Linked DNA regions of Homo sapiens. The protein of the gene in region 5 purifies or fractionates together with the protein of the main gene of each other region. This does not show direct contact. Each region holds a gene or a part of one and is shown on either strand. Other genes may lie near its edges.

What was found.
Region 1: the proteins of ABCC1 (region 5) and PIGH purify together in Homo sapiens (co-immunoprecipitation; one large-scale study listed by IntAct). This does not show direct contact.
Region 2: the proteins of ABCC1 (region 5) and CLN6 purify together in Homo sapiens (co-immunoprecipitation; one large-scale study listed by IntAct). This does not show direct contact.
Region 3: the proteins of ABCC1 (region 5) and CCR9 purify together in Homo sapiens (co-immunoprecipitation; one large-scale study listed by IntAct). This does not show direct contact.
Region 4: the proteins of ABCC1 (region 5) and VSIG4 purify together in Homo sapiens (co-immunoprecipitation; one large-scale study listed by IntAct). This does not show direct contact.
Region 6: the proteins of ABCC1 (region 5) and VDAC3 fractionate together in Homo sapiens (co-fractionation; 3 studies listed by BioGRID). This does not show direct contact.
Region 7: the proteins of ABCC1 (region 5) and PDHX fractionate together in Homo sapiens (co-fractionation; one large-scale study listed by BioGRID). This does not show direct contact.

The regions. Positions count from the first base shown.
Region 1 is NC_000014.9:67,593,568-67,597,801, forward strand, and holds part of PIGH (phosphatidylinositol N-acetylglucosaminyltransferase subunit H), read right to left. Parts: intron 386-4,234; coding exon 176-385; intron 1-175. UniProt on the Homo sapiens protein: Part of the glycosylphosphatidylinositol-N-acetylglucosaminyltransferase (GPI-GnT) complex that catalyzes the transfer of N-acetylglucosamine from UDP-N-acetylglucosamine to phosphatidylinositol and participates in the first step of GPI biosynthesis.
Region 2 is NC_000015.10:68,212,729-68,216,962, reverse strand, and holds part of CLN6 (ceroid-lipofuscinosis neuronal protein 6), read left to right. Parts: intron 1-2,574; coding exon 2,575-2,673; intron 2,674-4,234.
Region 3 is NC_000003.12:45,892,483-45,896,716, reverse strand, and holds part of CCR9 (C-C chemokine receptor type 9), read right to left. Parts: intron 2,501-4,234; exon of another isoform or gene 2,416-2,500; intron 1,812-2,415; 5' UTR 1,784-1,811; coding exon 1,763-1,783; intron 1-1,762.
Region 4 is NC_000023.11:66,036,877-66,041,807, forward strand, and holds the start of VSIG4 (V-set and immunoglobulin domain-containing protein 4 isoform 1 precursor), read right to left. Parts: upstream 3,205-4,931; 5' UTR 3,123-3,204; coding exon 3,068-3,122; intron 1-3,067. UniProt on the Homo sapiens protein: Phagocytic receptor, strong negative regulator of T-cell proliferation and IL2 production. Potent inhibitor of the alternative complement pathway convertases.
Region 5 is NC_000016.10:16,046,591-16,050,824, reverse strand, and holds part of ABCC1 (multidrug resistance-associated protein 1), read right to left. Parts: intron 2,684-4,234; coding exon 2,522-2,683; intron 1-2,521.
Region 6 is NC_000008.11:42,398,102-42,402,335, reverse strand, and holds part of VDAC3 (non-selective voltage-gated ion channel VDAC3), read right to left. Parts: intron 3,625-4,234; coding exon 3,472-3,624; intron 2,686-3,471; coding exon 2,633-2,685; intron 549-2,632; coding exon 321-548; intron 1-320. UniProt on the Homo sapiens protein: Non-selective voltage-gated ion channel that mediates the transport of anions and cations through the mitochondrion outer membrane and plasma membrane.
Region 7 is NC_000011.10:34,919,080-34,923,313, reverse strand, and holds part of PDHX (pyruvate dehydrogenase protein X component, mitochondrial isoform 1 precursor), read right to left. Parts: intron 1-4,234.

The DNA.
Region 1 (4,234 bases), on a different chromosome or scaffold from region 5:
AGTTGAAATGCTAATTCCCTATCCATGAAAACCTGCTGCATCTCTTTAAAAATAAAGAGATTTACCTTTTAAATATAAGTCTCACTTTTACGGTTTTAGTTTAAATCTGGGAACATCCCATGGGCTGGCTACCTCCTCCAGAGAGGCCTGTAATACTTACCTTTTAAATACTTACCATGTAAATGGCCTCATTGATGACAATATCCTTGACCTTGCCCATTTCTATGAAGGTAGTGCTTTCTTTGCCTGAAGCATAAGATGAAGTCATCTGAATGCCAAGGGAATCAATGATTAACAGAGTCTCCTGATCAATCTTCACAAAATGGAGATAACCAAGCAGACCTAAGAGGGTGATGAAGATGGCAGCAGAGAGGATCATGCTGTTCTGAAGAGAGAGCCAGACACAGACAGTAAGATTACCAAGTGGTACCAGTCAACTCCAGGCAATGAGGGGAACATGCATGGAGGAAAAGGAAATTGCTTTTATTTGGGTTCTAAGGTGCTATGAAAGTATACAGTGAAACAGATCCAGACAACAAATGGATAGGTCTAGGGGAAACCTCCATCAGCAAAATGTCCATCACAGCAATCTCAGAAATTTTTCTTCCAAAATTCCAACTTTAGGGCCTAAATCAGCTGAACGCAGTAGCTTGCACCTGTAATTCCAGCTACTAGGGAGGCTGAGGCAGGAGGATCGTTTGAGCCCAGGAGTTCGAGGCTGCAGTGAGCTATGATCATAGAACTGCACTCTAGCTTGGGTACCAGCATAAGACACTGTCTCTAAAAATCGAAAGGACCCAGCCGAGTGAGGTGGCTCACGCCTGTACTCCTAGCACTTTGGGAGGCCAAGGCAGGTGGATCACAAGGTCAAGAGATCGAGACCATCCTGGCCAACATGGTGAAACCCCATCACTACTAAAAATACAAAAAGTAGCTGGGCGTGTTGGCACGTGCCTCTAGTCCCAGCTACTCTGGAGGCTGAGGCAGGAGAATCGCTTGAACCTGGGAGGCGGAGGCGGAGGTTGCAGTGAGCCGAGATCGCACCACTGCACTCCAGCCTGATGACAGAGTGAGACATCTCAAAAAAAAAAAGGACCCCAAATCTTTTCCTTTCACACTCCCTCAGCAGAATACAGGAGGGAGTTATGTCCTGATAAACCCATTATAAGATGAAAATGCATTTAATATTTAGTTCTAGCACTCAAATAAAAAATTAAAATTAAAAAATGCATTTAATATACCTATCAAGCATCAGAGCTTAGCCTAGCCTACCTTAAACGTGCTCAGAACACTTACATTAGGCCGGGCGCGGTGGCTCACGCCTGTAATCCCAGCACTTTGGGAGGCCGAGGCGGGCGGATCACGAGGTCAGGAGATCGAGACCACGGTGAAACCCCGTCTCTACTAAAAATACTAAAAGTTAGCCGGGCGTAGTGGCAGGCACCTGTAGTCCCAGCTACTCGGGAGGCTGAGGCAGGAGAATGGCGTGAACCCAGGAGGTGGAGCTTGCAGTGAGCCGAGATCGCGCCACTGCACTCCAGCCTGGGTGACAGAGCGAGACTCCGTCTAAAAAAAATAAAAATAAAAAAAATAAAAAAGAACACTTACATTAGCCTACAGTTGGGCAAATCATGTAACATAAAATCTGATTTTACAGTAACGTGTGGTAAATCTCATATAATTTATTCAATGCTATACTTAAAGTGAAAAACAATGTTTGTATGGGTACTTGAAGTACCGTTCCTACTTGAAGTACCGTTCCTACTGACTTTGTATTGTTTCCGCATCATCCTAAAGTCAAAAAAATCCTAAGTCAAACCATCGTAAGTTGGGAACCATCTGTATATAGTGCAAAATCATAGACTGAACAATTATAAAGTGCTTAGCACAGTGTAGCAGATACTATGGCTTGCCTAATAAACAGCCACCCACCAGCCCCAATTGAACAGTGAGTGAACCATGATTGGTTCCCACTCCTTCTGCCAATGACTGCTTTAAAAATTGGCATGTGACACAACTCTGGCCAATGAAATGTGAGGGGAGATCTGCTGGAGGGGCTTCTGGAAAACTTGAGTTTATCTTTAAAAATCTGCAGAAGAGACGTTCCCTTCATCATGAGGTTTAGATACCTGGAACTACTATGGCCTCTGCCAGACCCAGTGGAGAGCTAGTAGAGGACAACTAGAGGACGCTAAGGGTGGAAGTGCAGTTTCTGCACTTGGAGGACCAGGTGGAGGACAAGTAGGGCACACTAAGGGTGTCAGCAGTAAGATGACAAGAGCCGGAATCAAATGAGTCTCCACGTGAACTCTGGAGCCCTCCTACCTTATGACTTCTTGTTAATATAAAAGGTCCTTATCTCTTAAGGCTATTTTAGTTGTTCTGTGTTACTTACAGTTGACTAAGTGATGTGTTAAGGGCTCAAAAAATGGTGTCTATTATTTATTCCCTTGATTCTAAGACCAATGTATAATCTTTAACATTTCTGAAGTTAAAATGTGTTTTCCTATTGGTGTGTGTTTCTTTCATGTGGCATTGTTTTATCTTTTTTCCCAGAAGCTTGCATTCATTCATTGATTCGAGACAGAATTTCACTCGTTTCCCTGGCTGGAGTGCAATGGTGTGATCTCGGTTCACTGCAACCTCCACCTCCCGGGTTCAAGTGATTCTCCTGCCTCAGCCTCCCTAGTAGCTGGGATTACAGGCACCCGCCACCACGCCCAGCTAATTTTTTTTTTTTTTTTTTTTTTTTTAGTAGAGATGGGGTTTCACTATGTTGGCCTGGCTGGTCTCGAACTCCTGACCTCAGGCAATCCACCCGCCTCAGCCTCCCAAAGTGCTGGGATTCCAGGTGTGAGCCACCGCACCCGGCAAAGCTATGATTTAGAAGACTGGCACAGGAAAAAAATTATTGATGACCTAGAATCAAAGAAATTTTGTAATTTTGGACTGCATTCCTTGAGGGCAGGAAGTGTCTTATTATTCTTTGCACTGACAAGATGCCCTCCTTTATCTACTTCTAGTCAGGTTCCTCTAAGCTGTCTAGGCCCTGACCTTGACATCTTTGTTGGGCCTGCACTACCCACCCAATTGTAGCAAGAATCTTGCTGAATCAGTTTAGAAAGAACTCCCACCCTTGGTATTTGATCAGCCTGGCATGCCTTCAGCAAGAATCCTGTCAAGTCAATTTAGCCAGAATCCCACCTTGCCCCTGATGTTTCCTTTGGGTAATTTTCCATCCACTGACTCCCACCTTGCTCCTTGGCTATAAATCTCCACTTGTCCATGCTATATTCGGAACTGAGGAAATTTGGAAGTCTATACTGAAGTCTCTTTTCCCCTACTGTAATAGTTCCTGAATAACATCTGGTTTTTGTACCACTTCAACTACTCACTAGCTCTGGTTTTCTTTGATGGTCTCTTTCTACTTTTTCATAGTTAACCCATAGTGTTAGATCAGGGATCTGTAAACTATTTGGGCCTGTGGTCTGGTTTTGTCTGGCCCATCTCAAGCAAAGAATGATTTTTAAGTTTTTACAGGGTTGTAGAAAGAAAGAAAAGAATATTATGAGACAGACCCCACAGAACCTGCTATATTTACTATCTAGTCTTTTAATGAAAATGTTTGGGCCAGGCATGGTGGCTCATGCCTATAATCCCAACACTTTGGGAGGCCAACATGGGGGGATCGCTTGAGGCCAGGAGTTCAAGACCAGCCTGGGCAACCTAGTGAGACCCTGTCTCTACAAAAAATACAAAAATTAGCCAGGTGTGGTGGCACATGCCTGTAGTCCCAGCTACTCAGGTGGCTGAGATAAGAGGATCGCTTGAGTCCAGGAGACTGAGGCTGTAGTGAGGGGTATTCACACCACTACACTCCAGCCTGGGCAACAGAGTGAGAACCTGTCTCAAAAAAAACAAAGAAACCTGTCTCAAAAAAAAAAAAAGTTTGCTTATCTCTGTGCTAGATAATTATTTGTTGATTGATGAATGGAGGATTCAGTACTGGGTCTCTGATGATCCAGAAAGATCTAATTTTGAGTTAATTAATTGCATTGAATAAGCATTAAGAAGAATGGAGAGGAATACAATTCAGCCCTGACCCTTATAGATGTATTAAAGGCAAGATTAATACATAGAAAATATTCTGGAGGATACTCTGATACTGACTATAAGTGCCAAAAGAAAAGTTTAAAAAAAAAAAAGACATTAAAGCACACAGGAATATCCCATC
Region 2 (4,234 bases), on a different chromosome or scaffold from region 5:
TGGCTCGAGGTCAAGCATAGAGGCCAGCATCTGCCCAGGCATTCTGGCCCTGGAGCCCCTTTCTGACAAGGTTGAATTCTCTGTCACATAAATATCCAGAATCCTAATATATTCATCCCTCTGACCCAGTAATACCCTTCCGAGAATCTGCCCGTAGGGATATAATCAGCAAGAAGACAGCAGTTTCCTCTAACTCAAAGATGTTCATTGCAGTGGTGTTTATGATAGCCAAACCTTAGAAGTGACTTGCGTGTCCAGCATTAGGGACTGGGTAAATCAGTTTTGCTATGTCCATTATAGAGAATGTTTCCTGGCAATTAAGCAGAAATTATGGATACTATAGAGCAACCTGGAATATTTAAGGAGAAAAAAGGTTCCTAAATGACATGCAGACTGACTAATTGCAAGTCAATAACGAGCTTGTCTACCTGGGATCAAAGACTTGATAGGTGTAAAGAAAAGCTGTCCTGGCAATGCTGTCAGGGAGTGATGGTGGGTGCTGGTTCTCCTTCCTGCAGTCTTTTTGAAGGTTGCCTTTTAAATGTGGAAAAATAAGAGGAATTGAGCCAAGAGTTGGGGCATCTGGTTGGGTTTGTGGGTGACCTAGGGCAAGTCACTGTCCTGGGCTTCATTTCTCTCTCCAAGAAGACTGGCTGGACTGGCTGCTCTGAACCTTCTTCTAGCATGAAGGAACCACATACTGGGGGCCAAAGAAGCTGCCCATCAAACTGGTGCTAGAGAGAGAGATGAGGCCAGGAGTGGGCTCGTGGCTCCCTTCACTCACTAGGACCCAGCTTCTACTGGCATAACAGGGTCTCCTATTGGGCAAATCACTTCCCCCATCCTGCTTAGAGCTGCTGTGACCACTGTAACCCTAAGTAGGACTTGGTGGAACGTAGACATTTGAAAAGCTCTTGTATACGCTAGAGATTTTCAAATGTATGCATAATAGTTGCAAATTTGTTAAAAACAAAAACATTTACAAGTTATAAAAGTAACATGTCATAGATGTAACATAGTTGTAACATAAAGAAGTGTTAGACTCTCCCTACCCCTTTCCTGTCCCACTGCTGACAGTTTCGGGAACACCCCTTTCACTCTTCTCTGCTTGTACAAACACATATATACATCCTTTTCCCTTCTAACCATAATGGGATTTTGCTTTATACTTTATTTTGCAACCTGCTTGTTTTCCTTTAGAATATATCATATGGTGGGCATGGTGGCATGTAATTCCAGCACTTTGGGAGGCCAAGGCAGGAGGATTGCCTGAGGCCAGTCCTGGCAACATAGCAAGACCCTGTTTTTACAAATAATTTAAAAATTAATGGTGCTTGGTGCCTGGCACCTGTAATGCCAGCACTTTGGGAGGTCAAGGTGGGAGGATCGCTTGAGCCCAGGAGTTTGTGACCAGCCTGGTCAACATAAGGAGACCTCATCTCAATAAAAAAGAAAAAAGAAAAAAAAATATAGCTCTCTCTCCATGTCAGTACATATAAGGTGTCATTTCTGTTAATGGCTACTTAACCTTCCATGGTAAGAAGTACTATCAGGGATTCAACTGGTCCTGTTTGATTGAAGAGTCAGCCTATTTCTGATGTTTTGCTATCACAGAGTATTTTAGCAAGTATATATATGATGTAGGTAAAGAGGCAGATAAACACATGCACACTGAGTAAGAGAGAGAGAGAGAGACTGAGATTGCTGCATTCTGTGAGTTTTATTTCTGCGGGTTTAGTTTATCCAATATGGCATTTCTGTGTTAAAAGAGAGAACCATCTAAATCCTTCCTTGAAACTTGTGGGCCTTATGTGTGTTTTCAATCAACAGATACTAGAAGTACAGTTTGGGGGTTGTGAAATGCTTTAACCCCGCATAGGGGTTTTCACACTGGCCTGGACAAGGCCAGGGCTCAGAAGAGAGAGCATTGCAGAAGGAGGAACTGCCCCTGGCCTGCCTTCCTCTCTCTGGGAAGGAAGAGTTGCAGCTACTTTGTAGAGCATTCTTGTTTTCTCCTTTGTCTCCTAACGTGTACTTTGAACCTGGTTTGGAAGCAGTCCCTCCACATCAGGGCCTAGCACTCAGGAGACTGATCTGGCACTCAGGAGCGCCAGAACCCGAACGGTCCAAGTAGGCCCTCTGGGCCACCTCTCTTGTGTTATAGATGGGGAAACCAAGGCCCAGAGAAGGGAAGTATTAGCCCAGGGTCACCCAGCAAGTTGGTGCCACAACGGAGTCCCTGAGAAGCCTACCAACTCCCAAGCTGGCATCAGGGTCATTTATTTGGTATCTGCTGGGTGAGGGGCACAGGGTCAGGCCTTGACTGGAATTGCATCTGCTCTGTGTCTGGGGACAAGTCCGTTACCTCCTCTGGGACTCAGCTTTCCTGTCTGGATAAACCTTTGTCCCAAGGCTGCCGAGAAGGTCCAGCGATCACAGGAAGAATTAAGTGTACATGATGGGGTGGGGGGTGAAAGGAGTTGGGGTGGGCGGCATTAGGGGCAGACTCCCTTGAGGCCCGAGGGCCGCGTGGGGCTGTGCCCAGGTGAGCCCATTCTTCCATTTGCTCCGCAGCTGGTATTCCCTCTCGAGTGGTTTCCACTCAACAAGCCCAGTGTTGGGGACTACTTCCACATGGCCTACAACGTCATCACGCCCTTTCTCTTGCTCAAGGTACTGTCCCAGGGCCCCCACTCTCTCCTGTCATCCCCATTCTTTGCACACCTGGCAGGAAGGTGATGCTAAGCCCTGTGTCCTGACTCAAGCACGCTCCTGCCTGCTGCTGGGGGGTGAAGGCTGTGACAGAGCAGCATGTCCAGGGCCTGGGGCCCGGGGAAGGCGGAGCTGCCGGTGGCCTGGAGGGATGGAAAATATGCCCCAAGAAAGGGCTTTTGATTTGAGCCTCAGCCTGGCGTGCCAGTGGGGGAAGCAGAGAGGTGTTCAGGTAGAAGGACCTAAAGACAAGGCTGTGCTTGGGAAACCGTAAAACATTTGGGGAGGCTGAGGCAGAAGTGACTGGAGGTCCAGGGAGAGGTCAAGGACCCACTGGGAAGAGAGGAAGAAGCCAGGTGGCAGGAGAGGCAGCAGCAGCAGCTGAACTCCATCCTCTGCCCTGGAGAGCCCTGAGATGTCACTGGGAGCACTAGCAGGAACTGCTGGCTTTGCACTTTGCCAAGTAAGGCCTTTAAAACTACTATAGGTTGAGCATCCCTAATCCAAAAATCTGAAATCTGAAATGCTCCAAAGGAGTCTGAAATTTTTTAAGCACTGGCATGATACTATAAGTAGAAAACTCGGCCAGGCGCGGTGGCTGGAGCCTGTAATCCCAGCACTTTGGGAGGCTGAGGTGGGTGGATCACTTGAGGTCAGGAGCCTGGCCAACATGGTGAAACCCCCGTCTCCATTAAAAATAGAAAAAATTGGCCAGGCGCAGTGGCTCATGCGTGTAATCCCAGCACTTTGGGAGGCTGAGGCGGGCGGATCACCTGATGTCAGGAGTTCGAGACCAGCCTGGCCAACATGGTGAAACTCCATCTCTACTAAAAATACAAAAAAAAGTAGCCGGGCATGCTGGCAGGCACCTGTAGTCCCAGCTACTCGGGAGGCTGAGGCCAGAGAATCACTTGAACCCGGGAGGTAGAGGTTGCAGTGAGCCAAGATCACGCCATTGCACTCCGGCCCGGGCAAGACAGTGAGACTTCATCTCAAAAAAAAGAAAAAGAAAAAAATACAAAAAACTTAGGGCCGGCATGGTGGCTTACGCCTGTAAGCCCAGCACTCTGGGAGCCCAAGGCAGGCAGATCACTTGAGGTCAGGAGTTCGAGACCAGCCTGGCCAACATGGCAAAACCTCATCTCCATTAAAAATACAAAAAAGTTAGCCAGGTGCGGTGGTGTGCGCCTGCAGTCCCAGCTACTTGGGAGGCTGAGGCAGGAGAATCACTTGAATCCAGGAGGTAGAGGTTGCAGTGAGCCGAGATTCCACCACCGCACTCCAGCCTGGGCGATGGAGCAACACTCTGTCTCAAAAAAGAAAATTCTACACATATGTACTTAACACAAACTTTGTTTCATGTACAAAATTATTTAAAATGTTATATAAAATTAACTTCAGGCTGTGTATGTAAAGTATATAGGAAATATAAATGAATTTTTCCAGGCATGGTGGCTCACACCTGTAATCTCAATACTTTGGGAGGCTGATACAGGAGGATCACTTGAGGCCAGTAGTTTGA
Region 3 (4,234 bases), on a different chromosome or scaffold from region 5:
CCCCACACTTGAGAAAGTATTAAATCCCAACATTGAGACCTGGATTTCAGTGCTTTGACATTCACCCTGAGGGAGGAACCCAGCAAAGCTATGATTGCCAACAGCACCCCTCAAGGGCTATTCCTCCAAATTTCTATGAGACCTTGAACCCTCAAACCACCTTCCCCAGTCTCGGTCTCCTCATCTGTAAAAAGGACTCTGCCTTTACTGTGACGCTGAGGGAATGTGGGGCACCTGCATGGGTGACTGGCCCAGCACATCCTCAGAAAGGTGGCCACAGGGTGCCACGGCTACTTTCCATGGAATATGGGAGTCAGGGCCACAGGGGTCCCATCTTCTTCCCATTTAGATGGCGCCAGACTCCTCTGACAAGAGCAGGTCATTACTGAGGTGCAGTTTCCTTCTTATCTGGGGCTGCTTTGCAGAGTTGGCTATTATCCAAGATCCCAAATGATAAAAGCAAATGACTGGCAAGCTCAGAAGCAGCCCTGGCTCTGCTGCCTTCATCTACTTCTGTTTCCACAGCCTCAGGGATTGAAAGGTGAATTTAATGCAGGAGAAACTGAAGAGTCTACTTTTTGTCAGAATAATAGTTACTTCACCAGGACCAAATTAATTACTTTTTTGTTGTTATGGATATAGGTGCAATTAGGTAACTATACATATGTAATACTAATGAATCATTAGCATATCATAAATAATTTAGTTGATAAACTGTTTCAACCACCACTCTCCATAGATCATGGAAACCCACAATGTACTGTGAGGCAGTTTGTTAGCCCGCCTGCTAGGAAGTCTGGATTTCAATTATCTACATGTAAAACCCAGGCTTTCCCTTGGAGAAGAGCAAAATCAAAGCCCTTAGGTAATTTTATAAGGCATTTATGAATGTTACAAAAGCATGGGAAATTAATTTGATTCTACACTTAATTACATTCGGCTGTAAAAGAAAAAAAGATTCTCTGGATTATGATTTGACTCACTGATTTTTTTTTTTTTTTTTAAGACAGAGTCTCGCTCTGTTGCCCAGGCTGGAGTGCAATGGCGTGATCTTGGCTCACTGCAACCTCCACCTCCCAGGCTCAAGCGACTCTCGTGCCTCAGCCTCCCACGTAGCTGGGATTACATGCGCATGCCACCACACCTAGCTATTTTTGTATTTTTAGTAGAGATGGGGTTTTGCCATGTTGGGCAGGCTGGTCTTGAAATCCTGGCCTTGGCCAGGTGATCCGCCCGCCTCTGCCTCCCAAAGTGCTGGGATTACAGGCGTGAGCTACCACGCCCAGACTGACTCACTAATTTTTGCTCAGCTCTTGGTCTCTTTCAGGGGAATGTATACTGTTACGTGTTTTCATAAGGTCTACATAATGTTATGCAAGAAATACAACTAATGTGCCCACCATGGGTTTTTTAAAAGCAAATTACATGAATTCTCCCTTTGCCTCATTTGTCTGAGTTTTAGAACAGGCATATGGAACTAAGCACACCCTAGTTAAAGATGGTTAAAAATCCTTAGCTGTTTATAACACCACATTTTCCTCTGTCTCCACAACATACCCCAAAGCATAGCTGCCTCTTTGCATTTGCAAAACCCTCTGTGCTGGACAACAACCTACCCAGCAATGCGCATTGCCAGGCAGAGATCTTACCCTGGGAAACCACACAGATAAATCCTTCCCCCACAGTGGATCCTTCCCACACCCCCTAAAAAGGGAAGATGAGTGTGTGTTTTGAGGAGCCAGAGGAGCACGGCTGTACTCACTGTGAAGTCTGTGGGTGTCATGGTGGGTCAGTCAGATGCAAGCCTGCTCCTGGAAAAGGGACAAAAATCAAAAAGTGGACTGGCTTGTAAACGAATAGTAACAACCAAATGCCAAAAAGATGGAGATTAAATTTTAAATCTGCTTATTCTTCTGAAAAAAATATTCCAAGCAGGAGTTAGAGTCTATATAGTATTCTAGATTTCAGAATCATCTGAGTAGTCCACACAGAAATGAATGAACCTCTCCTTTGAAGTTATCATTCACTTCTTTGACTCTGAGGGTCACCTGATTCTAGCATTTGTTTTCTTTCTACTTAGACAATAATTAGTACATCTCCCATCCACAAATGAGGAATGGCAGGTGGGCTGTTACATTTTTCCCAGCTCATCCTTTCTACATTAGCTCCCTTTCCCTTGATTCAGCTTGTCTGTCAAGTCCTGTTTTGCTGACTGGTTCCCCTTCCCCCTGCTCTATCAGCTAAGGGACTCACCGAAGCTAACAGGACAGTGGTCGCTTTGAGAATGCCCTGGGCTCTGGACTCCCCAGGAAAAGGGCCTTTGAGTAACCAGGTGGCAAGAAGAACATGAGGGCTGGGTGGTGCCCACTGGGGTTGGGGCCCCTCCCTAAAAGACCCGGTGCCCCCAGAACCCACCTTTCTCCTCTTTACCCTGACTTCAGCAGGAAAAGGAAGTCCTAGGTTTGTGTACTGAAGAAAATGAGTTCTAGTTCCCTAATGCACAGGGCCTCGGAACTGACTGAAATAAATCTCGAGTTGTCATTTTCATGTGTTTTGAATTTCTTTAAAGCCCACCCCTACATAACCAAAGAAACAACAGCTTGACTGCCTTCGAGGACGAAGTCTGTGCCTGAGCTGGGGCATTTCCTTTTATACCCTTAGCGAGTACATTTCAAGGAAACCTGTCCAGCATCACACCCCAAGGTTCTCGAAAAAAATAGCCTCTTTCATAAATCCTATAAAGCCAACCTGTTGGCTTCCTTTCCATAACAACATCATGACCCCACCCTGCTTTTCTGAAAGTACAGTGGTTTCCAATGCATAATGTGTGGTAAAACCACTTTGGAAAACTGGCAGTTTCTTAAGACGTTATACATGCACTCACCATGTGATCCAGTCATCCCACTCCTAAGTATTCACCCAAGAAAATTGTAAGTATATGTCCCCATAAAGACTAGTATGTGAGTGTTTATTACAGCTTTACTCTGTGGTAGGCAAAAACTGCTAACAGCCTAAATGTCCATCAAGTAGTAAATGGATAAGTTAACTGTGAAATATCCGTCCAATGGAATAGGGAATGAATGACCGATTCACACAGCAACATGGACAAGTCTCCAAACAATTATGCCAAGTAGCCAGACCAAAGGGAGTTCATACTGTATGATTTCACTTGTATAAAACTCTAAATAATGCAAACTAATCTATACTGACGGAAAGCAGAATCACTGATGTCCTGGCAATAGAGAGAGAGAGAAGGGGAGGTGGCTGGGCATGGTGGCTTACGCCTATAATCCCAGCACTTTGGGAGGCCAAGGTGGGTAGATCACCTGAGGTTGGGAGTTCGAGACCAGTCTGGCCAACATGGTGAAACCCCATTTCTATAAAAATACAAAAAATTAGCCAGGTGTGGTGGTGTGCGCCTGTAGTCTCAGCTACTCAGGAGGCTGAGGCAGGAGGATCACTTGAACCTGGGAGGCAGAGGTTGCAGTGAGCCAAGATTGCACCACTGCACTCCAGCCTGGGTGACAGAGCAAGACTCCATCTCAAACAAAAAAAAAAAGAGAGAGAGAGAGAGGGAAGGGGAGTGTGGGAGGGCAGGAGGGCAGGTGGGTACAAAGGAAACCTCAGTGGGGGATAAATATGTTCACTGTCTGGGTTGTGTGAGAGCTTCGCAAGGGTGTATGTACGTCAGAACTTACATTCTGCATTTTAATATTTGCAGTTTATTATAATTGGACCTCAATAAAGCTGTTCAAGTAAGGCAGGAAAAAGCAAAGTACGATGAAAACCTTCTGGCACTTCACTTCTCAGTGTCATCTCCGGCTGTCAGCAGGCCCTGAGGAGGAAAGCAACCAGAACTTCCTCCTGGTAACCTCTCTGCTGGTAGCTTTTCAAAAGTGCACTGGAGTGCCTTGTGCTGTTGTAGCCAACTTGAGAGATCACTACGGACCCACGTGGGTTTTTTTTGTTTTGGTTTGTTTTTGTGGGTTTTTTCCTTTTATTTTAGCTTCAGGGGTATATGTGCAGGTTTGTCATATAGGTAAATTGCGCGTCATGGGGGCTTGGTGTATAGATTATTTCGCCACCCAGGTTAATAAGCATAGTACCTGACTGGTAGATAGTTTTTTTATCCTCACCCTCCTACCTCCCTCCATCCTCAAGGGGGTCCCAGTGTCTGTTATTCCCTTTTTTGTGTCCATATGTACTCAACATTTAGCTCCCATTTATAAATGAG
Region 4 (4,931 bases), on a different chromosome or scaffold from region 5:
ATATTATATTATATATTTTATTATATAATATATTATATGATATATTATATTATATGATATATTATATGATATATTATATTATATTATATAATATATAATATAATATATCATATAATATAATATATCATATAATATATCATATAATATAATATATAATGTAATATAATATATCATATAATATATATTATATAATAATATAATATATCATATAATATATATTATATAATAATATAATATAATATAAAATATTATATAATAATATAATATAATATATAATATATATTATATAATAATATAATATAATATATAATATATAATATATAATAATATAATATAATATATAATATATATTATATAATAATATAATATAATATATAATATATATTATATAATAATATAATATAATATATAATATATATTATATAATAATATAATATATAATATATATTATATAATAATATAATATAATATATAATATATATTATATAATAATATAATATAATATATAATATATATTATGTAATAATATTAATATATAATATATATCATATAATAATATAATATATAATATAATTATATAATAATATAATATATATAATAATTATATAATACAATATATAATATATATTATATAATAATAATATAATATAATATATTCATAATATATTATATTATATTATATATTTATATACTTATTATATTATATTACTTCCTTTATTATTACTTCCACTTTACTGATAATTACTTATATATAATATATAATAATTATATAATTATTACTGATAATTACTTATATATAATATATAACATTATATTATATTATACTTATTACTGATAAGTATATATACTTATTACTAAGTATATAAACTTATTACTGATACGTATATATACTTATTGCTGATAAGTATATATACTTATTGCTGATAAGTATATATACAGTATTGAGCTTAATGTGGTCCTGAGACCCAGCCTTATAAAAGCAAATGTCTGATGCCTGTGTAATGGCACTGAAGAAAAGAAAGGTTGAATTTACTAGGTGTGTGCTCCTTTATAAGACCCATTCTAGGTCTCTTTCTGAATCCCCTTCCTCCCATCATCACAAAGAGGTTGACATTTTCCATATCTCTATCCCATTCCCCCACATGACTGGCTTCTCTCCCTTTCCTGGAATGCCTCCTGGATGGAGGATTAACTTATATAATAGATGTTTATAAAATGTTTCTGAAATGTTTAAAATGTATATAAAATGTGAATATTAGAAATTTTTTAAATTTTGATTATCTTGACATATCTCTTAGCCCCACAGGAAGAGGCTAGCAGCTTACTCTGGCCGCTACAGGGTTTTTAGCAGTGAAGCTGCAGTCCCACAGAGTTGTCCAGCTGAGAAACCCCTTTAAGACCAGTCAAGTCAACCTCCTCACTGTACAGATGGGCTAGGAACAATGAGGTCCAGGGAGAGGGAAGGTATTATTTGCAGCTCAGCATAACCTGAGCCTGAGGTCTATAGTATAAGATCCTGTGTACAAATGGAAGGCCTGCTTCCAGGTCTGGAAAAGCTCATAGGCTGGGGAAGGAACAAGACACATGAGTGCTCTCTCTCTCTCTCACACACACACACACACACACACACATGAATGCACACACACATACACACACACAAACAAAGGATTTAAATTTAACATTTCTAAAATGCTCCCTCAAGCCCCAGGCTTAAGCCCTAGCTCAAACCAACAGACTTGGAGAAGGTAGAGAGATACATTATAAAACCTGCTAGAGAATGGAAATGTGGTAGTTATAGAAAGAAAAATGTTTTTTCAGGAGCATTAACTCTGCCACTAATGCTCTTTGGCTTGGGGGCAAATTATTTTTTCTCTTGGTTGACTTAATTCAGAGTCTTTTCTAACTCTGAGGTTCCAGAGTGTGATGGGTCACAGAGCCCCAGGATAGGGTAACCTAATCAGAGTCAGCTACGGAAAGCTGGATTCTTTCTGACCTAACAAGTGACACCAAGCTAACACCTATCCAGCCTTTTTCTCTAGGGATGATAGGGAAGCAGCAAAATCCCCCTTTACCCTATATTGGATCTCACTTAGCTGTTACCCAGGTTGAGTTTCCTGAAAATCCATCTCACTTCTCAGGAGTGTAGATGAGGATAGAGCTTCCCAAGCTCCAAGGAAATAATGCCACTATGGAATAGTCCATCCTCCTTTGGGATTTGTATCCAGCCCATAAATAGCCCAGACAAATTGAGCCATGTCTATAGGGAAGTGAGTTATCCCAGGAATGGGTAAGAAACCAAGTCCTATGAAGACCAGTTGAAAAAGCTGGGGCTGTTCAGCTTGGAGGAGAGAAGAGTCAAGGAGACATAGTACTTGTCCTCAGGGCTTTGAAGGGCTATCACAGGGCAAGGAAGCATCTATGTTCTGTGTAGCCCCAAGAAGCAAAGCTGGGGTTTTTGGATGGAAGTCAGAGGGAACTGGATTTAGTTCAACACAAATAAGAACTTTCTAACAGTTGGAGCTGCTCCTGGATGGACTAGATGGTCTGGGGAGGTAGTGAACAGTGAAATCTCAATCACTACTGGATGTTTCTGAGCACTTATTCATGACAATGAAGGGTGGTATAGGTTACTTCTATAGTCCTATCCAACTCTTAGAAAACACTCCTTCTTCGGGGGCTGTATATTTTAACAGAGACCAAAGCTTGGAAGCAGAGTGGTTAAGTCCAATTGTAGAATTTTAGATGAGAGACAGCAGATGGAGGAAAGATTCGGATGTCATTGGGAACCTTCTTGATGCCCCTGAGATACAAGCCCTAGAAAATAATGCAGATGTTTTCCAAGAGAAAAATCCTTTTTCAATTTCTGCCCAAACTTGCCTTCTGGCTTCTTCAGCAGCCTTCAACTACATCCATCCGTTTTGCTCAAGGCTGAGAGAGCCTGCAGAGTTTGGCTGAGAAGACTCACCTGCCCAGTAGGAATAGGCTTTCCATAGTAGACATTAAACACCAACCCTCTAGCCTTTTGCCTAAGCCAGCAATGGCAGCCAGGCCCCCCTTTCTGCCTTACCATAAGTGTCCACTGTTAGGTGCCCCAGGAGTAGCAGGCCCAGTAAGATCCCCATCACAGCCAGAGCTACTTCTGTCCTTTCTTCCAGCCTCCTGCTACCAAAGAGGCTCAAACTTCTGGTGGCCGCCAGCGTCTGTGACTGCTTACTTCCCTTCCTTCCCTATATCTCTCACTCAAACTCCTAGTCCCATCACACATTCCCCTTCCTTCCCTATTTCAGTACAGGTCATGTGGGGTGCCCCCCTTCCCCCACCTCCTTGGGGTTGGAGGTTCCAGGATGAGTGAAGCAATTCTTCCCCCTGCTAGGGTATTGACTTGACTTTCCTTGGAGCCAATGGGGCTTTCTGGTCTTTGATCTCCTAGGCTGTATTTATTTTGAGTCTCCTCCACAAGATTCAGAGGTTGTGGGGGCGACCTTTGGGATGAGTCTTCCCACTCCAGTATGGCGGTGTTTTCCTTTGTGGTGAGCCCAGGGAGAAGAGATCAACTTTGCTGACCTACCCAATTTTCATTAGTTGTACTGTTAACCCTTGCCTGTGCAGCCTATGCAACTGGACAGGGTGTTGGGCCCGGGGTGCTTTTGGGCTTAAGAGTACAAGAGTTTAGTGTATTAAAGGGCTTTCTACACATCAAAGCTTGAATAATTGACAAGCCAATGGATAAGGCTGTTATGGGTGAATATGCCTCATATCTCATATTGGGGAAGCTCTTTGAATCACTTTCTACAATGGCTCCACCTCTCTGATGGTAAGGGAGAATTCATTTTCATTAATGTTCTCCATGCTTTTTCATAAGGAATTTATTTTTTACTTCTTTTAAGGGAAATTTAAGCCTAGCCTCCAGTGCAGCAGCCCATTAGTGGTATGCTGTATTAGGTTGAATTTTTCATTGACTTCCAATTGGTACAGGCCCTTGACCTACAAGAGAGTAATATTATGCCTCCTAGCAAAGCTCAACTGCTCCAGAAATTGCTCCTCTTCACAGGCCCCAGAGTGACTGTAATTTCATCAGCAGTCTAACTAGGTTTGGCACTGCGCTTTGTCTACTAAGCTTTGAAACAATAAGCACTTTCAAAAGCACAAATACATCCCAAAAATTCATACTGCACTGTAAGTAACAGCTAAGCTTAGTTTACTCTTTGATTGGAGGGATAGGAAAGGACTTGGTCAGGGGAGGGAGGAGTTTGTGCAGAGATGGGGAGTGGGAATATAAAGAAACATACTTGCCAAGGGGTGGCTGCATGCAGATGATTTGGAGCTGTGCACGGGCTAAGGAGACATTCCAGCATTTCAGGACACATTATTACATGGAATTCTATCAATCACCTCTGCCTCTAGGGCCCAATCCCCCTTGGCTGGTTGTTCCTTGTTTTTTGAGTACTGCACTCATTCCATCTCACTGGAAATTTCAGCCATTTTTTCCCACCGGGTCCTCACTCAGGAAACCCTGAACTTCACAGAACCCTCCTTTGATATTTTTCAACCAACACCCTATCACCACTACACCACCACCACCGCACAGACACACACACACACACACACACACACACGCACACACATACACACACACACACCCCTCCCCTTCCCCGCTAAAAAGCCCACTGGACAGATGTAAATTTCTGCCTGGCCAGGTGATTGTGTGTTTTGTGCTACCTCTTGCATTTTATTAGGACCTCCTGGATCTGAAGATAAATAAATGTCCTGGGGAGTATGCACAACATTACTTCAAGGCTGGGAAAGACTTCCAGTCTTGCAGTAGGCTCAGTAGCCCTCTTGATTAGTAAAAGAATTGGATGAGAAGTCAGAAACCTGGAGATAAGCCTGGCTCTGTGTCTACTTCATTCTGAGATCTTGAACAAGTCAAA
Region 5 (4,234 bases):
CTCAAGCAATCCTCCTGCCTCAGCCTCCACGGTAGCTGGGACCACAGGTAGGCACCACCATGCCCAGCTAATTTTTTTTTTTTTTTTTTTTTTTTGTAGAGACAGGGTCTCACTATGTTGCCCAGGCTGGTCTCAAACTCCTGGCTTCAAGCAATCCTTCCACCTCAGCCTCCCAAAGTGCAGGGATTACAGGCGCATGCCACCTATATCTGTACCCAGCCTATTAGACAATTAAATTCTGGTGTTTTTTCTGAGTTTTATTATTAGAAACACTTTACTCACCTTCTGCTCTACAAATGTACAAAAAAAAACCAAACTACAGCCAAATAAACCAGTAATTTTTTCTTCTTCCTTTTTCTTTTTTTTGAGACAGAGTCTCGCTCTGTTGCCCAAGCTGGTATGCAGTGGTACAAACTCAGCTCAATACAACCTCCGCCTCCCGGATTCAGGCCATTCTCCTGCCTCAGCCACCCAAGTAGTTGAGATTATAGGCATACACCACCATGCCTGACTAATGTTTATATTTTTAGTAGAGACGGGGTTTTGCCATGTTGGCCAGGCTGCTCTCCTGGCCTCAGATGATCCACCCGCCTTGGCCTCCCAAAGTGTTCAGATCACAAGCATGAGCCATTTCGTCCAGCCCTTCTCTTTCAATAACAGATAATAATTTGAGCTGTGCCCATTATGCATCAGGCCCTGCTGGGGTTGTACCCACAGAAGACACAAAAGTCAGCTGCTATATGTCTGCAAGTAGCTAACATGTTACCCTTCAAAGAGGAGGCAGTACACTGAGCATGCAAAAAAAACAAAACAAAACTATTTCAGGGAGTGGGCTGGGCACGGTGGCTCACGCCTGTAATTCCAACACTTTGGGAGACCACAGAGGGTAGATCACCTGAGGCCAGGAGTTCAAGATCAGCCTAGCCAACATGATCAAACACTGTCTCTACTAAAAATACAAAAAAAAAAGAAAATTTAATGGGCGTGGTGGTGTAAGCCTGTAGTCCCAGCTACTCGGGAGACTGAGGTAGGAGAATTGCTTGAAGCTGGGAGGCAGAGGTTGCAGCGAGCCAAGATGGCACACCACACTCCAGCCTGGGCAACAGAGCGCGACTCCATGTCAAAACAAAAACAAAACAAAAAAAACTATTTCAGAAAGTATTATTAGATGAGTTCCTATACTAAAGTTATTGGGACTCAAAATTCAAAAGAAGAAGTCCATCTAATTGAGAAGGGAGGGTAAATCAATGGAAGTAGTGTTTGTTACAGCCTTGGGGGATGAGCAGGCTTTCATCAATTAGGAAGAAGGAAGGAAAGGTACGTGGCAAAGATCCAGAGGTAGCAAAGCACAAGGCATGTGTTGTGCTATGAGCCTCTTTGCTTATCATTTTATTTTGGGAACTCTCCCTCTCCACATGGAAGGGCTGTCAATCACATCTCTTCTGCCATGGGAGAGGACATGTGACCCAGGCTGGCCAATGAGAGAACTCTGCCTCCTGGGCCACAGTGATTGGTTCACGGGTGTGAATAGGACCAAGCCAGGCTAATCAGAGTGCTCTCTGAGACTGACTCTGGCTGTGCAGAGAAATGCTGCCTTGTCTTTTCTCTGGCACCTTTATCTATCAGGATGTTATCAGCCCAAAGCTACGGAGCCATGTAGGGAAGTACCACTGAGAATGATGTTAACTCAGAGGACAACAGGGCAGTGGGTGAAACTGAGTACTGACAACATTGCTTGATCTCCTGGATCAATCCACACCTGAAGCTAGTCCCCAGATTTCTGAGATACATGCAGCCCCAAAGTTCCCTCTATTTACTTAGGCTACTTTTTTTTTTTTTTGGAATTGGAGTTTCACTCTTGTTGCCCAGGCTGGAGTGCAATGGCCCAATCTCGGCTCACCGCAACCTCCGCCTTCCAGGTTCAAGCAATTCTCCTGTCTCAGCCTCCCAGGTAGCTGGCATTACAGGCATACACCACCACGCCCAGCTCATTTTGTATTTTTAGTAGAGACGGGGTTTCTCCACGTTGAGGCTGGTCTCGAACTCCTGATCTCAGGTGATCTGCCCGCCTCGGCCTCCCAAAGTGCTGGGATTACAGGCGTGAGCCTCTGCAACCGGCCACTTAGGCTACTTTAAGACAGATTTATATCCCTTGCAATTGAGAGAATTTTGACCACCATAATTAGGGACTAATGAATAAGTGAGTCTGGTTAGCGTTTGGGAGGATTCAAGGGGAGAAATATGATGTGTCGTCCATTGTAGGGTAGTTAATTACTGACACTGTCAAGGAAAAGAGAAAATGAAAACGCCATGCCACCAAGGAGAACATCAACCTGACAATTCAGGAAAGGAACAAAATACTGAGGAATTGGTTAACAGGCTGGAAAATAAAATATGAACCACAGCCGGAACTGCCAGGGAGCTCTACATGCCATTACCATCAACACCCACTCCCTCGGCCCACTGCCCACACGTAGAAGTCCCTCCCTGCATGCAAAGGGAAACGGCGTTAAACACACACCAGCCACAGGAGGTAGAGAGCAAGGATGACTTGCAGGGGGGCTGACCAGATCATGTTAATGTACGTGGCCAAGTCCATGAACCTCTGAGCGTCCACAGACATGAGGTTGACAATCTCCCCGACCGTGGAGGATTTTCTGGCTGAATTGGTGATCACCAGGGCCTGTGGGACAAAGGAGAGGGAAGGTGGGTGAGTGTGGCAGCTGAAGAGGCCTGACTCTCCCTCCAGACCCACGGAGAGGAAGGAGACTCTCAGGGGCAGAAATGCCGCAGATCTCTCCTCCTCCCCTCCCGACCTATCTGTCTGCCCAGGACGCCTGTGTCATCTCAAAGCCCACATTCTTATCCGCGGTGCTCAGTGCCTCCCAACCTTGAACTCATCAGTTGGCAAGGGACCCTAGGTGTCCTCGAAACCAGGGCTTCGCATGCTTTAATGTGCACACATGCGGCCGGGTTTTTCTGGGGGGAGTGGTGGGGGGTGGGGGGAGTTGTTTTGGATTCTGCAAGTCTGGGGTGTGGCCTGGGATTCTGCATTTCTACGCTTCCAGGCTGTGTCAGTGCTACTGGTCCCAGATCCCACTGAAGGACTGAGGGTGTGGGCCAGGGTCTCTAATCCTTGGCATTCTTGACATCTGGAGCCAGATAATTCTTTGGGGGGCTGTCCTGCGCACTGTAGGAGTTTTAGCAGCAATACCTGGCCTCGACCCACTACATGCCCTCGCCCCCAGTTGGGACAACCGAAAATGCCCCCAGATATTGCCAAACGTGCCCTGGTGGGGGAAAATGTCCCTAGCCCTCAAACATGATTGCACACTATCACCTCGTGAGTTTTAAAAACACTAAGACATTAGCAGGCGTGGTGATGCATGCCTCTGGGCCCAGCTACGTGGTGGGCTGAGGTGGCAGGATCGTTTGAGCCCAGGAGGTGGAGGCTGCAGTGAGCCAAGATCATGCCACTGCACTCTAGCCTGGGTGACAGAGCGAGACCCTGTCTCAAAACATAAAAATAAATAAAAAACAAAAACAATGACACCTGGGTGCCACCACAGCAATCGCAATTTCACTGGTCTGGTGCAACCTAGGTGTCAGGAAGTTTTTTTGTTTTTTCAGACAGGGTCTCATTCTGTCACACAGGCCGGAATGCAGGGATGCTATCAGGACTCACTGCAGCCTCCAACTCCGGGGCTGAAGTGATTCTTTTAACTCAATCTCCTGAGTAGACGGGACTACAGGTACGCACCACCATACCTGGCTAATTTTTTTAAATTTTCTGCAGAGCCAGGGTCTTGCTATATTGACCAGGCTGGTATTGAACTTCCAAGCCTCCAGTGATTCCCCCACCTTGGTCTCCCAAGCTGCTGGGATTACAGGCATGAGCTACAGTGCCTGGCCTGCATCAGTTTAAGCTCCCCAGGTGAGTCTAATTCACAGACAGGCCTGAGAATCACTCCTCTAGTTCATCAAGTACCTGCAAGACTGTCTCTTCCTAACCTAGGAGCCAAGCAGTTTCCTTGACCTCGAGACAAAAAAAAAAAAAAATTTATAGGGATCAAGAAGGTAATTTAGGTCCTTTGAAATTGGATGTACACAAATGCCTGCTACATACTCTTACCATGCAAGGAATGTGCCACCTGCTCAGTTCAAATTAAGAGTGACAACAGGCTGGGCGCGGTGGCTCATGCCTGTAATCCCAGCACTTTGGGAGGCTGAGGCA
Region 6 (4,234 bases), on a different chromosome or scaffold from region 5:
AAGCAGTAACATCTCCAAAGGGTCATCTTACCATGAGGTAAGCCATGCTCTGGGCTCCCTCTATCCCAGTGGTTCTTCTACAGAGGCTGGAGCTTCCTCAAGTTTGGGGTGCAGGCTGAGGGGCCAGTGACCACCAGCAGCACAGCCTGCACACCACGTGCACCAGCCTCCTGGCAAGGTTTTGCTATGAGGATAGCACCGCAAGGATGGATATTCACCAAGGCATGCTAAATCTGAGTACCATCACTTCTCAGCATGCTAATGGCTACAATATTTTGGGCAACTGCACTGATACTAAGGAATAAATTATAAACACTCACACATGTGTGTGCAGCTGGAAGTCCGCAGCCTTGTAACCCAGGGCGAAATTATTCTGTGACAGTTTGGATTTGGCTGTGTCAAAACTCATCTGATAGCCAGCAAGCCACCCTTCGAAGGCCAACACAGCCCAGCCATAGATGGTTGGTCCAGAAAAATCTATATCAACATTACTGCCAACACTAAAACAATCCCGTTTATAGGAGGCCTTCAATTTCCCACTCTTCTTTCTGCAATAAACAAACAAACAAAAGCAAATGATGAAAACAACATGAGTTCTTACTACTGTCTAGGAATTTTTAGAGTAAGATCCTCTCTCTCATCTCCCAATGTAAATATTATTTTGGTACATGCCACATATATAGTAAAAACATTTCAAATGACCTAGTTCTACAAATATAATTTTGTTAGGATTAGACATGTATAGACTACTATCATCTATTACTCATTATAAGTTCAAATGATAGGATACTTCATGATTTATTTCATAAAAGCATGAACAAAAGTATAAGAATGAATAAGAGGCTGGGTGTGGTGGCTCACACCTGTAATCCCAGCACTTTGGGAGGCCAAGGTGGGCGGATGACGAGGCCAGGAGATTGAGACCATCCTGGCCAACATGGTGAAACCCCGTTTCTACTAAAAATACAAAAATTAGCTGGGCGTGGTGGCACACGCCTGTAGTCCCAGCTACTTGGGAGGCTGAGGCAGGAGAATCACTTGAACCTGGGAGGCAGAGGTTGCAGTGAGCCAAGATCATGCCACTGTACTCCAGCCTGGCGACAGAGCGAGACTCGTCTCAAAAGAAAAAAAAAGAATGAATAAGATATTTCAGTGCCAAATTAATAATCTGAAGGTGTATGTATACAGACGTACAAGAAGCCAAATCTCTTTAAATGTTTCCAAATGCCAAATGCCACAAAGAATTAATCCCCAATATACATTATTAACCTATCATGGAGAGAAGCATGCTTTTTTGAAGGACAATACTGAAAAAATGAAATTAGTTCTTAATAACCCTATTCCAATCAAGCCTCTTGTAGGAATATTTGTCCTGGCCGGGCACAGTGGCTCATGCCTGTAAGCCCAGCATTTTGGGAGGCCGAGCCAGGCGGAACACGAGGTCAAGACAGAGACCATCCTGCCCAACGTGGTAAAACTCCGTCTCTACTAAAAATACAAAAATTAGCTGGGCGTGGTGGTGCATGCCTGTAGTCCCAGCTATTTGGGAGGCTGAGGCAGGAGAATTGCTTGAACCCAGGAGGCAGAGTTTGCAGTGAGCTGAGATAGTGCCACTATACTCCAGCAAGACTCCATCTCAAAAAAAAAAAAAAAAAAAAAAAAGAAAAGAATATTTGTCCTAAAGATAACTGAAGTGTGTGGCAAAAAGAACACACCTGTTGTTACGGCTGAGACAAATGTCACTTTGCATTCATCTAGCAACCTCCGTCCTTCAGATAGCATGGACCCACATTAGGCAGATAGGAAATGACACAATCCCCCTTTTTTTCACGAGGAAATTGAGGTCAAGAAGTTGGGGGATTTACAGAGGCTAAGAAATCAAGTAGGCAGCAGAACTAATCATTATAGCATCTGAGAGCCAGATCACCTTCTTAAGAAATTAACTTTTCAGCACCATAAGAGAGGGTGAGGGGGAAAAAAAAGGAATTAACTTTTTTTTTTTTTTTTGAGACAGAGTCTCGCTCTGTTGCCCAGGCTGGAGTGCATCTCGGCTCACTGCAAGCTCCGCCTCCTGGGTTCATGCCATTCTCCTGCCTCAGCCTCCTGAGTAGCTGGGACTACAGGCGCCCACCACCATGCCTGGCTAATTTTTTGTATTTTTTAGTAGAGATGGGGTTTCACCGTGTTAGCCAGGATGGTTTCCATCTCCGGACCTCATGATCCGCCCATCTCGGCCTCCCAAAGTGCTAGGATTACAGGCGTGAGCCACCACGCCCAGCCAAAAGGAATTAACTTTCTCAGCAGAATACCATGTCCATCAATCTTCAGAATTGCTTAAGATTCATCTATGGTCTCAAGACTCTTCTAGCTCCTAAATTTTTTCTACCATGTGTCTCTCTCAAATACATTTATACATTTTTGCTCATCTATTCAGTTTTCAAATTGTTCATCCTGCCTTGGTGGGGAGGGATCTTCCTTTATCTGTATTACCTATACAAGGTCTCCAATATTCCTTATAGCAACCTTCTGAGTTCTTCCTGCCTCTGAACTTTGCACTATATCTCCTTATTCTAAAGCTCTCTACCCTTTCAGGCTCCAAAAACGTTTCAGGAAATGGGATTTGAATAATTACCCTGTGTTCGGTACAAATATGGTATCAAGAGTCAGTTTCAACCCTTCAGCCAACTGAAAAACAAAGATTTAAAATAAATAATTAGTAATTTTCAATCATTTATCCAACTCAAGAAACCAATTCTAAAGTTTCCTGAGTTCTTTAACAAAAAAAAGGAGTCATTCAAGAAAGCAAAATATTAAATTATGTAATAAGTAAGCTCTCCATCCTCCTGTCCCCTCACCCCAGCCTTCATCATGGTTCTCCCACTAAAAAATGGGGCAAATCCTATTTTAGCAAGTTACATAAAATACAGTTCAAAACCAAACAGAATTCCCATACAACAAAATCATCTTGATACTCTCTTGAAAGAGCAGTAATGAGATAACCTGACATTTAACAAGCAGGCTAAGTCATTTTACTCAGTTTTGCATGTACATTATCTATACATGGTATCTCTATCAAAAACAGTGCCCTGTACATAGTGGGCACTTGACTATATCTAATAGATTTTCTCCTTGAAAACATGAGAACATTTTAGAAAAATTTTTCTGTCAAGCCAATTTTTCAACAATTACAAAACTAAACCAAATTTCCGCAAATAGTTTGTTCTACCCAGGAGAAGCTTAGCTGTGTAACAGAGAACCAGTCAGAACAAAGATGTAATATAGTAATTAGAGTACTCACAAACAAAGCCTTATTTTCTAGAAACATAAGACATCAAAAAAGGCCACATGCAGAGAAAAAATATGGCTACTAGATAGGTTGTAAGATCTCTTTTGATTATATTTGGGGTATGTTCATCATTCAATCTACAAGATAAATTGAACCTATGAATAACTTCTAATGCGTTCTCTTACCTTATTCTCCCAAGAGATTTCTGTCCCTAGAGTATTGTCTGTGTTCCATTTCTGGGTGAAGGTAAGTCCATAGTTACAGACCTTATATTTGGTTTCTAGGTTGCCTGATGCTTTCCCTGTATCAGTGTAAGCATGACCAGAAGTAGAAAATTCCTGGTAAGCAAGAAAAAATAATTACTTTAAAATTAGCTCATCAAATAGAAAATATTCACTTTGGAAAGCAGTGTTCAATGTATCAAAAACAATACCATTTACTGCTTGCCACAGCCCTACTCTAGAGCAACTTCTTTCCTCCTTTCCCCTTGCTTTTCCAGTCCCTAAATATTTTAACCAGTTCTGCCAGGCGCAGTGGCTCATGCCTGTAATCCCAGCATGTTACGAGGCCAAGGCGGGTGGATCCCTTGAGTCCAGGAGCTCAAGACCAGCCTGCGCAACATGGCAAAACCCCATCTCTACAAAAAATACAAAAAATTAGCCAGGCATGATGGCACGTGACTGTAGTCCCAGCCTGAGCCCAGGAGGCAGAGGTTGCAGTGAGCCGAGATCATGCCACTTCACCCTAGCCTGGGCAACGGAGTGAGACAGCTCAATACCAGTTTCAGATCTTTCCATTACTCTACTTCTCTTATTAATATCTCTTGTTCCATATACTCTCTTACCAAATGGTAATCCTAAATTCTCTCCTTTAAAAAAGAAGTATCTTTACTGAAAACAAATGCCTTTACTAAAAAGACCAAAAATATTGTATCTTAAACATTTTACT
Region 7 (4,234 bases), on a different chromosome or scaffold from region 5:
TTTCCCTAGGAATGTTTCATATAATAAAGTCCTTGATTTATACAGTAACAGAAAGATATCAAGCAGATCACTAGCTATAGTAAATGTACTGCCTACCAAAAAAATGAATCACCCATATACCCCATCTTGTTCATAGAATCTGCTGATTCTATATTATTATACTTCTACTTAGTATCCAATGGCACATTAGAAAAGAGGTTAGCCAGAATTTTTAGATAGCATATGGTGTAGAATGCATTTCCTTTGAATGAAATAAACCAAACATTTTAGAAGAGATTTCAGCTTGGAATACTGTCCTTCTTGGTATTAAACTATAAAATTAAAATTCTACATGAAGTTCACTTTACTTTGCCATCTTGGGAGAAGAGCCAAAAGAAATTACCATTCCATTTACAGCCTAGCAAAAGAATACATACACACACACACACACACACACACACACACACACAACGATACTTTGGGAATTTACACATTTTGTCGTAAAAGGCAAATTAAGCTCAAGACAACAACAAGAAGGTATATTTAAGAGTACATCACCTTAGAAATTTACAGATAGGAGAAGTCAATATATACTCTAACTCTCTTAAATAGTCCTGCCACCCTTACACGTAGTCAAGAATTTTGGTGTCCTTAATTGTTCTAAAATGATAGGCTGTCACAGAAATGCTAGTCTACAATGCGGTTATTACTATGTCTGATTTCATTTTTTTAAAAAAAGCAAAAATGTTCATTTAGGATGTACACACGGTGAACTTTAAAACGTCAGCATGCTGACACTGTTCTGCTGAAATCTATAATCAAGCTATCACTTGATACTGAGGTAGACTATGGTTAAGGAAACAGGCATTGGTGTCAGATCTGGGTTGAAACCTGAACTATCTACCAGAGTATAGTATTAGTTGTGAGTATTAAATGAGCTGATTCATGTAAAGTGCTTACAAGGGTGCATAGTATATAGTAAGCTCTCAACAAATGCTACTTATTATTCCCAAACCTATCCCCAAATTTCTTTCTTGCTGGTAGCTCAACTTTGTTCAGCAATATACTTTTCTTGTGCATATGTACTCAGAGTTAGTGATTCCACACCCATCCCCTTGATTAGCCAAAGTCTATACATTTTTCACACAGTGAAGTCAAGCCAGTGCCTAACTTAAGAAAGGGCATACGACCCAATTCTGGTCAATACAATATAAGAAAATTCTGCTGTGGTAACAGAAGATGTTTCTTGTTCTGCAAAAAAGACATCCAAGAAGAAAGGTCCTCTCTTCTTCCTCTGGATGTCATCACGTGCACAGTTCCAAAGTGGTCATCCACTTATCCACTAACCTTGGGTAAAATGCTAAAACCTCTCTGAGTCTATTTCTTCTCCCGTGAAACCTGGCAAACCTTTGCAGGGTTTTTATGATGGTTAGAAGTAATGCAAATATAGTGAGAGCTCAGTATGTGATGGCTACTTCTAATACCCTGCTTTCATAGACAGAATAAAATCCTTTAAAACAAGGTAAACATATACAAAGTATTTCCTGATCATCTAAATCTTCTTAGTCCCTCCTGTTGCTGCCTGTAGTAAGATCTCATTTACCCCTGTCCTATTTTCTTTGGATGGGCAAACATCTCAGCTGAGTAGCCTACAAGTGCTTTGCTTAGATGATACACTTTGCTTGGTCATTACTTAGCGCAGAAACAATTAAAATAAATAAAATAAAATAAAATACTGCATTACTGGCCTATTTTAGTCAGATGGTCATAGCAACAGAAATGTCAATCATTGATTCTCAACTACTTTCTTAAAGAAAATGTCCAAATCGTAGCCTTCGAAAGAATCAGCCTTGCATGCCCTGTAGCACAACTGGTCTACTTTGGGTCAGTTTCTCTATTCAAGGAATTTGAAAGGAGATTACAGAAATGATGGTGAGCACTTAAACAAAACTGACAGCGCATCGTGCATAAAGGCCTGAATCACCACTGAGGCAAGGCAAGCTGACACTGAGAAAGAAAAGCCAGGAGTAAACAGATTGATAATTGCAAGTCTGTACAGGAAAACAAAGTAAATAAGAGAAAGAAGACAAATAATATGAGCCCTAGAAGAAATAGATGGAATAATTATGGTTTCCCCATGGCCCTGCAGCATTTTATAAGTGATGTTCTATCCTTTTAATAAATCCTACTTTTACTAGAGCTATTCTACATGTTTCTGTTTCCACAGTTAAATGAGAATTCAAAGGAGAATATCAATCTTATCAGTGTATAAGCACTTAATAAGAACCAGGCCTAAAAGAGTATCCGTGTTTTGGCAGAAATACCATACCATTAACTCTATCAAAGAAGTTCCCTCTCTCCTGGTTATAGCACTGCTGTCAAAAACTCAGATGCCTACAAAAAACAGGCAGGTGAGAGAAGAGGACTAGCATCTTCAGGTTTTTTCTTTAGATTCTGACATCCTTTATTTTCATATTAAATGGATAAGCATTTTCCTCCTTTACACATATACACAATATCTGCTTTCTCCCATTTTTCTTGGTCTTTTGTCTTCTGCCTTCCGTAGAGATAAGAGTACAAGAAAAAAAAATGACAACTAGAGGTGATGCAAATACCAAGGGACATTCAGCCTTGCTAAGATGTAATACAGAGTAGGCGGCATAGTGACAAAGTAGGAAGCAATTTCCTACCTAAAAAGAACAATCATTACTCAGTGTTAGATAATTGTCACCACATAGGATTTAACTATCAATTTTAAAGAGAGAACAAAAATCTAGATTTCTCTGTAAAGTCTCCTGATTTTAAAATTTTGCCATAAGTTTTTCTGCTAAAACAATGTGGGTCAGTTCCCTGGCTGCCAACTTGGAATCCTACTGTAGGCTCTAGTGTTCTTTTATAACTTCCTAGATTACTAGCTTCCTTAGATATGTTTATTGAACATCTATAATATGTATTGCCTATAATTATATACTAGGCAAATCGCCACCAAGATTGAACCTCAGTTACTTTTCTATTCACAGGTTATTTTAAATTCAACATGTTATTCTTCAGAGACAACTTAAAACCAATACTATTAATTAACATCTTACCAATTATATTCCAAATCATGCTACCTACTCTGAAAGGACCACAATTTAAACTCTCTGAAGTTAACTGTCTAGAGTAGGTTGAAAAACTGTTTACAGATGCTGTGTCAATTATATAATGATCACTCTGGTCTCTGGGTCTTTGTTTCTGCTGTTCCTTCAGCCTGTAAGGGCTGTCACCTCTTCCTCTAAGAAGCTGCCTTATATATTATTTCCTGATCATTTCAAACTTACCCCCTCTGAGCTTACTGTATACACTATTGAAATCATACCTTTATTGTTTATGTCCCCAAAGAGACTACAAATACCTTAAGGATCAGCCCTATATAGAATTTTGGATTGCATGTCCAGGAGCTAAGTATGATTAAATGTGCCATGTGGCAAATACTGAGAATCTGTTTGATTCAGCTGGCCACTACTTCCCAAGCAGGGTACCATGTGCCTGGCACCTAATAGATGCTAATTTCTTCACTCATTCTTCAATAATGTAAGTGGTAAAAAAGATAGTCTCTGCATTCTCAATAAATCTGTTGAGAGAATGATACAAATTAAAGATTTGTTAAACAAATTAATATATGTATATAAATATATACATGCACTTCAGTTCATCAACACAGTTACATGTCTTTAGGAGACTCAATTTCTCTAAGCCTTGGTGTTTTTGTCCAACTAAATGCAGATGATGCCAACTTTACTAGGTTATGTGAGAAGTGAATGAGAAATTCTAGAAAGTGCTAAGAAAATGGCATATGTCATAGCTCATAAAAATGCTGCCAGCACCTCTTAAGGAAATTAAAACTCCAAAGGTAGTTCCGACTGACAAATTTTTAAAGATATTTGTGTGAAAGACGAAACAGTTCAATAAATGTACTTAATTTATATAGTTTACAGTAATCCAAATAGTTGTTTAGTTTTATAAAACTACAGTTTCTACCAAGCTCAGAGAAAAAACACCACCGTAAATTCACAGTTTGTAAAACAAATAGTTCAAGGATTGCCACGTGTTTTCGGCATGGCAAAACAAAAATCTGTATGTAGGTGAAAGTCAGAAGCGGATATATTTTGGCTCGGTATTAGGAAAAAAGTCCAACACTTCCAAATACTTAGTATTTCCAAATACTTTCCACAGCTTCACATGCAGAATGCCATGCCTCAAAAGGTTCACGTCC